Homo sapiens: one gene and its partner. The protein of the gene in region 2 interacts with the protein of the main gene of each other region in a pairwise test. Each region holds a gene or a part of one and is shown on either strand. Other genes may lie near its edges. The genes, in order: RASGRP3 and SULT1C2.

What was found.
Region 1: the proteins of SULT1C2 (region 2) and RASGRP3 interact in a two-hybrid assay, tested with the Homo sapiens proteins (one large-scale study listed by BioGRID and IntAct).

What each region holds. Positions count from the first base shown.
Region 1 is NC_000002.12:33,517,931-33,521,754, reverse strand, and holds part of RASGRP3 (ras guanyl-releasing protein 3), read right to left. Parts: intron 1,804-3,824; coding exon 1,741-1,803; intron 1,203-1,740; coding exon 1,071-1,202; intron 1-1,070. UniProt on the Homo sapiens protein: Guanine nucleotide exchange factor (GEF) for Ras and Rap1.
Region 2 is NC_000002.12:108,302,199-108,306,022, reverse strand, and holds part of SULT1C2 (sulfotransferase 1C2), read right to left. Parts: intron 1,450-3,824; coding exon 1,323-1,449; intron 852-1,322; coding exon 757-851; intron 609-756; coding exon 428-608; intron 1-427. UniProt on the Homo sapiens protein: Sulfotransferase that utilizes 3'-phospho-5'-adenylyl sulfate (PAPS) to catalyze the sulfate conjugation of phenolic compounds. Does not transfer sulfate to steroids, dopamine, acetaminophen, or alpha-naphthol.

The DNA of each region.
Region 1 (3,824 bases), about 75 Mb from region 2:
TAGGTTTTGCACTGAACCATCCAGAATTTCTTACTTAGTGTCTTTGTGACCGGCAAGGTCTGGATCATACAGGAAAGGTCGGGGCTAGTATATAAATTTGGGAGTTTATCAGGATATAGGTGGTGATTTAAGACACATGGAAACCACTAGAAGCTGTGGTTCTCATACTTTAGTATAACATGAACTATCTGAAAAGCTTGTTATAAAGACAGAGGCCTGGGCCTCGCTGCCAGAGGTTCTGACTTATTAGGAATGATCCTGAATAATATGTATTTTCACCAAACATCCCTTATAATTCCTGGATCATTCACTATTGATTACTATTGAAGAAGTATTCAATAGTAATCGACAGTGGAAAACAGAGTAGACTATGAATACGTAACACACAAGAACAGACATTTGCAAGATGGATAGCCATATTTAGGATCATCAAATAGTCTTCCCTGTGCAAAGTTACCTAGTTGATATGAAAGTGGCCTAATTGCACCGGTTACCTAATAACTGAGCTAACCAGCTCCTGGCACATCTATGGTCAACCACCATAAGGCTGTTGTTCTGAGGCCAACCTCAGCAGCACCATGGTACAGAGCTTCTCAAGCTTGCATGTGAATCACTTGGGGATCTTTAAAGTGCAGATTCCAATTCAGGTTTAAGGTGGGGCCTAGAGGCTGCATTCCTAATGAGCTCCCAGGTAACGCCAATGCTGCTGGTCTGCAGACCACACTTTAATCAGTGAAGGTGTAAGAGACATTAAGTAGATTCAGACTCAGTAACTAACACTGAGCATCTATTGCATGCCAAATCCTTTCATGTGCTATCTTGTGTCCTTATTGAATGTTCATAATAATCTCATGAGAAAGGTATCGTCCACATTTTACAAATAAAAAAAACTGAAGCTTGGAGAGATGAGCTGTGTCCCATACGGCTTGCGCTCACTGCAGCAAGGCTTTCCTCACAGAAGCAAACCTGGATTCAGGAGTGGGATGGACTCAGAACAAGTGGGGTGATCACTACTTCCTCCCCTAAGTGGTGGACTTATTGGGTGTGAAAGACGTCGGTGCCACTCTTACATGCTGGATATGTCGATGAGGCTGACGTGTTTTTCATATCCTAGTTGACTAGCTACTTCCCGAAATTCCTCAGTCATACGAATCAAACCAAGATCCAAATTAAACTCTGCAGGAAACTTCAGAATCCAGTACCTGAAAGGCATCAAATATTTTTGGCAGCTGGAAGATTGCAAGTTGGTTATCTATGGAAACGATTGTACCGTTTTACAGACTACATTTAACACCAAGTCCAGGACCATCCAGGACCACACTTCAAATTAGCCATCTCCTGTCTCCAAAACCCCATCCATCACATGGAGCCTCTCTCTGCCCTCCTTCAATCTAAAACCGCTCCCACTCATAGCCTCTCTTTCAGTTGAGAGGAAACCCTTCCTTCAATTCATGGTGAGTAGATGGGAATGGGTGTGGTGAGGGAATAGAAGAAAATAAATCCACCCTTTCTAAGAGCTAGTTTCATTCCGTAATCACATTTACTACTACTTGATCTCTAGTCCAAAAGATAGTTCCCCCCACCCCACCCAACAGAGGAGAGCCAATTTTAACAAAGTTGGTGGGAGGGGTATCAGAGTAGAGTCTGTTGTCAAACTAGGTCTGCAGCTTGGGGAAAAGGAAATTGTCCACGATTCCAGAACCAGAAACTACAAGAAATTAAATTTGTAAATATATTTACCTCATGAAGTAGCAGATCTTTAATCGAAATTCATTGCAGCTTTCTCCAGTGGCATTTCGATACGTAAACCAGTTAAAGAAAAAAAATCCTTGCACCTCCTTTCCTTTGCACACCCCTGCAGCTGTGCCCTCAATGTATACCAATTCCTAATAAGAGGACCATGCTGGGGTTATATAGACACTCAAATACGGAGAGAAGTGGCCTCTGATGACTTCCACACTGAACAATTGAAACTTGATTTATTATAGCTCTGGAATGCATTTTTTTGGTCTGAAGAAGAAGCCACTTACAGGATTAGTTTTGCCTTCCTCCACACTTATTAACCAATAACTGCCAACTGTAATTACAAATAGTCTGGCAACTATACATAATTAAAGTTGGTAGTACAGAGAAACACTACATTGTTTTGAGATGGAGTCTCGCTCTGTTGCCCAGGCTGGAGTGCAGTGGCACGATCTCGGTTCACTGCAAGCTCTGCCTCCCGGGTTCACACCACTCTCCTGCCTCAGCCTCCCTAGTAGTGGGAACCCGCCAACATGCCTGGCTAATTTTTTGTATTTTTAGTAGAGACGGGGTTTCGCCGTGTTAGCCAGGATGGTCTTGATCTCCTGACCTTGTGATCCGCCCACCTCGGCCTCCCAAAGTGCTGGGATTACAGGTGTGAGCCACCGCGCCTGGCCGAGAAACACTATTTTAACCAAAAAGATTTTGTATTTAGGATTAATGCCTTATACAGTTATGCACCACATAACAACGTTTCAGTCAATGAAGGACTGCATATGTGACAGTGGTCCAATAAGATTATAGTGGGATTGAAAAATTCCTATTGCCTGGTGACATGGTAGCCAGCATAATGTTGTAACCCAATGCATTACTCATGTGTTTGTAGTGATGGTGGTGTAAACAAACCTGCTGTTGTGTGAGTCATATAAAAGTCTAGTGTGCACAGTTATGTATAGTATATGATACTTGAGAATAAATGACTGTTATTGGTTTATGTATTTACTATATTATTTTTGTTGTAATTTTAGAGTACTCCTTTTACTTAAAAAATTAAAAAGTTAACTGTAAAACAGCCTCAGCAGGTTCTTCAGGACCTATTCCAGAAGAAGGGATTGTTATCATAGGAGATGACCAGCTCCATGCCTGTTACTGCTCTTGCAGACACCTTCCAGGGGAACAAGAGATAGAGGTGGAAGACAGTGATATTGATGATCCTGAGCCTGTGTAAACCTAAACCTAGGCTAATGCGTGTGTTTCTGTCTTTGCTTTTAACGAAAAAAGTTTAAAAAGTAAAAAAAAAAATTTAAATAGAGTAAGTTTGTAGAATAAAGATATTAAGAAAGAAAATATTTTTTACAGCAGTGCAATATATTTGTGTTTTAAGGTGTATATTACAAAAGGACTAAAAAGTTTTTAAAGGTTTATAAAGTATAAAAGTTACAGTAAGCTAAGGTTAATTTATTATTGAGGAAAGAAAAATATTTTTATAATTTGGTGTAGCCTAAGTGTATAGTGTCTATAAAGTCTACAATATTGTACACTAATGTCCTAGGCCTTCACATTCACTCTCCACTCACTCACTGACTCACCCTGAGCGGCTTCCAGTCTTGCAAGCTCCATTCATGATAAGCACCCTATACAGGTGTACCACTTTTTATCTTTTATACCATATTTTTACTGCACCTTTTCTATGTTTAGATACACAAATACCCACCATTGTGTTACAGTTGCCTATAGAATTCAGTACAGCGACATGCTGTACAGGTTTGTAGTCCAGGACCAATAGGCTGTATCATATAGCCTAGGTGTGTAGTAGGCTACAGCATCTAGGCTTGTGTGAGTGCACTCTATGATGTTTGCACAATCATGAAATCATCGAATGATGAATTTCTTAGAATGTATCCCCGTCGTTATGTTATGTGTAACTGTATGGGTACTCTAATTTCTTCTTTAATATTTGAAAATGTCATTTTCAGGTATATTAATACTCAAGTTGTGTTATTTACTTGTAAGCGTATTTATTCATATTCTTTTTAACAAATATTTATTGAGCTTGTGTATATGCCAGGCACTGTGGATAT
Region 2 (3,824 bases):
TAGATATGTGAAAAGCAGCTGAGTCCTGTAAGTGGTGGAGCTTTGGAGCAAAGACACATCCCTCCTGCTGCTGAGTCCTGGACCCTGAGATCCAGCGGCCCCTGGGAGGTCTGGACCAGTGGTGGCTCCTCTTCCTAGTTTTCTATGTGATTGCATTTCCTTTATTGTCCATGGTGAATCTTCACAGTAAGCCCCTTTCTTTGGGGCTAGCTTGAGGGACTCTCTGTTCCTTGCAACCAAATACTGGAACAATACCCTAGAAAGCTCTCTTCTACAACAGGATCAAATCCCTGGTTTTATTAGAAACACATATTAGGAATAGTTGAAATGCATTGGCTTGGAATTAATAAAACTCAATATTGTCTGCTAAGAGGCAGACAGGATGTTACGAGACAATCTGAATGTATGATAAAGAGGCCCCACACACCTTTTCTCATGAAGGAGGAAATTGACTGGTCCAAGATAGATTTGGAAACTGTAGAACGATTTGTCATGGGATTTTCTTTCATTTTCTCAAATGACGTCTCCTGGACAATTTTATCTAGCACTGTTTCATCCACCTTCTTTCCCATGAACTGCATCACCTTCCGAATTTCATGCTTTGGGTCCTGCGGCAAGGGTAACATTGGACTGGAATGAATGAGAGTATCATAAAGAAATACTACAATTCTCTGGGATGTCCTTTGAAACAACTTTGAATTTCTCTGCACCTGAAGAACCACTTTAAAATGGTTCTTCTGCAGAGCCTTCACTCACCCTCTTTATGTCCTCATAGAAGAGGAAGAGAATCTGGTGTCTGTCTTTCATCTCCCACCATCCTTTCACGTGGTCAAACCAGGAACCCCAAACCACTGAAATAGACACAGGAAACAGAATAGTCTACATAGGCATCACACAAAACCTTCTGAGTATTAGGGATTTTCCTGAAGTGAGTTAGAGAGAGAAAACCCAAATTCTGTATTAGATATGTCCTAAGGGTTCTGATCTGTTTGATTTTGAGGGTGGTGTAGATGGGGACAGCCTTAGGGTTACTTGCCCCAACATCGTCCCTAAAGTGGCTTCCTATTATGTGCAATCACATAGGGACAAGGACACCTTTTGGAAGAGGATGGCTGTAATTAAAGACTCTGAATCAGGTGGAAGATGTTTGCTGAGGGCTGTGGGCATACACTCAGTGGCCAGCTTGCTCTGCCCAGTCCCAGTCTGTGGTAGGACACACCTGATGAAGTACAGGCATTCTAGGGGATAAAATGCTGCCTGTGGTTCCCTAGACCCAGCCTAGCTGGAGTGAGAATGCAAGGGTGTGAAGGATGTTCCCGTACCTTTTCCATTGATGAAGGTTTCAAAATACTCTTCCCAGGTACCAGGGTCAGGAAGCATGTGGTTCATCCTTTGGAAATGGTAGTAGGAAACCATACAGTCTTTGGCATTTCGAGCTACATAAAGGAACTTTGGGGTAAGAAAAGAGGTGGGTAAAAGATGGTATAAAAAGTGGACTTTCACAGAGTTCCCTTAGGCAGAGCCATCCTGAGGGTTGCTGTGCACTCTGGCTCAGTTCTGCAGTGCTGGCCCTGCGACTTGGCCTTGTGACCTCCCTCTTCTTTCTGTCTCTGCTTTGTCACCAAGTCTGCTCTCTACTTCAAACTCAGTCCTTTTAATTAGCTAATCAATTAGGGATTGGTGAGGATTAGATTGCCTGATTGCCCCTTTGGTATCAGGAGCAAAATCTTTTTCTGTAAACTATGACCTGCCACTTGAATAGGAGACTTCCACAGTATCAACGTAAACTGATGACCCCTCGCGCACCCTCCCAAAGATGCACAGAAGCTTCATGTTTAAGAGTTTGAGCCACACAGCAAGAAAATAGCTCCTATTTTTCTCCTGGCCTCCTCGGCTTGAATGATTTCCATCTCTAATCATTTCAGCTCTGCCCCTACAAACATTCCTTCAAGTTCCACTTTGCCCACAATTTCACATCCCTGCACTCTCCCAACCTTTCATTTTACCAAATCTGACCTTTTATCCAGTACTCAGTTCACATTTTAATGGCATCAATGCCAAATGGGCCTCTTGACTATGCATCTCAGATCTATGACCAGCTATTTCAATGCTGTGCTTTTTTATTCTTTCACTTTTAAGTGGTTCTCAATTGGGGATGATGGGATGATTGTATCCACTAGGGGACATTTGGCAATGTCTGGAGACATTTTTGGTTGCACAGCTTGGAGTAGTGGTGCTACTGGCATCCATGCAGGGGCCAAGTATGCTGTTCAACATTCTACAATACATAGAAGAGTCCCCTTGCTCCCACCCACAAGAAAGAAAAATCTGCCCCAAATGTCAGGAGTGCTGTATTAATTATGTCTTTTATATTCTGTATCTGATGCTTTGACATCCTGGGGCTTTGCTGACTCTGGAGGAACTGCCTACAACACCCCAGAGCCTATACCCCCAACACTTCCACTGTTGGGCTTTTACACACTGGGCCATTATTCACCTGCCCTGACACCCCAGGGTCAGATACCAGACCACTAGGCCAAGCCCCTGTGGCTGAAAGCCTGCTCCAGTGGTTCAAACTGGCCAATCCCAAGCCTGCCTACCTTGCCTCAACTATTCCTTCCCAAAGAAACCACATCAAGGCTCTTGCCCATGTCTTCTACTCACTGTCTCTTCCTCCTGACCTATCCCATTGCTTCCCTGTGAGGCTCTGTGTGACATGCCATGCCTCCTGTTCTAGGTATCTGCGAGGACACACTTCTTCCTTATGACAGTCACCACTGTACCTGCATGTCTTGCCATGCCTGATTATATCAAGTCCCAGGCCCTTTAGAGCAAGTGCTAAGGTTGAGAAACCCTGCTCCTGAAAGCGTTGACTCTGTTACTGTCTACTAAGTCCTACTCCCCATCTTCTCTTCTCCAACTTACCAAGCTGCCAAGCACCAGTAAAGAAGGTTTTAAGAAATGCTGATTTAAAAAATTCCCCTAGTTTCTAAATTTTTTATGCTCAGTTTTCTTCCTCTTCATTGCTGCTTGATAATCCTTTTATTAATCCCTCCCGTGCTCCATCTCTTGGCTCTTAGCTCCAGACACAGGTCTCTCCTCTCTCCTCAAACCTTTACCCTCAAACCTTCCTGTCTGAGTTCACTAATTCTCTATGCAGCTGTTCTGCACTTTATCCTATGCTTGAGTTTTTAATTTCCATGATTTTATATTTTTTTGTTATAGAAATTCCATTTATTTACTTAATATTTCTGTGTCTAAAAGTAGCATCTTATTTCTTTATTTTATTTTTGATACACTTTTTCATTTATTCACACAACTTGAACCTTCTCTTATTTCTAGAGTTGATAATTACATTGTCTGAAGTTCTTGAGGTCTGACTCTTCCATGGGTTCTTTCTGAAGACTGCATCTCATGGTGGCTTGTTCTTTTGTGTATTTTGTAATGTGGGATGGTGAGCTCAAGTGGGGATCCTATGGGGGTCTGAGTTGCAGCTGTGTCCCTCCAGAGCGGACCTGGGAACACTGGCTGTGGGGACCACCTTGTGGAATGTCTCTGCTTGTAGTTTCTTGGACAATGCAAGGAGTGCAATTTTCAATCTCAAACCCCGAGGGAGTAAACCTGTGGCTATACATTCTCAAGGGAGCTGAGCGCCTAGGTCAAGGCAGAGTGGTTCCCTAAGGTCTTTCTCTGCCTCCTCCACCCATCCATTGAGGATGTAGCCCTTCAGTGGTCCCAGCTTTGGCTCCTCATTCTTCTGGTTCCTTGTGCCATGGGCTTTGACCCTGTCCCTGTGCAGCCATTAAAACTTAAATTGCTGGATT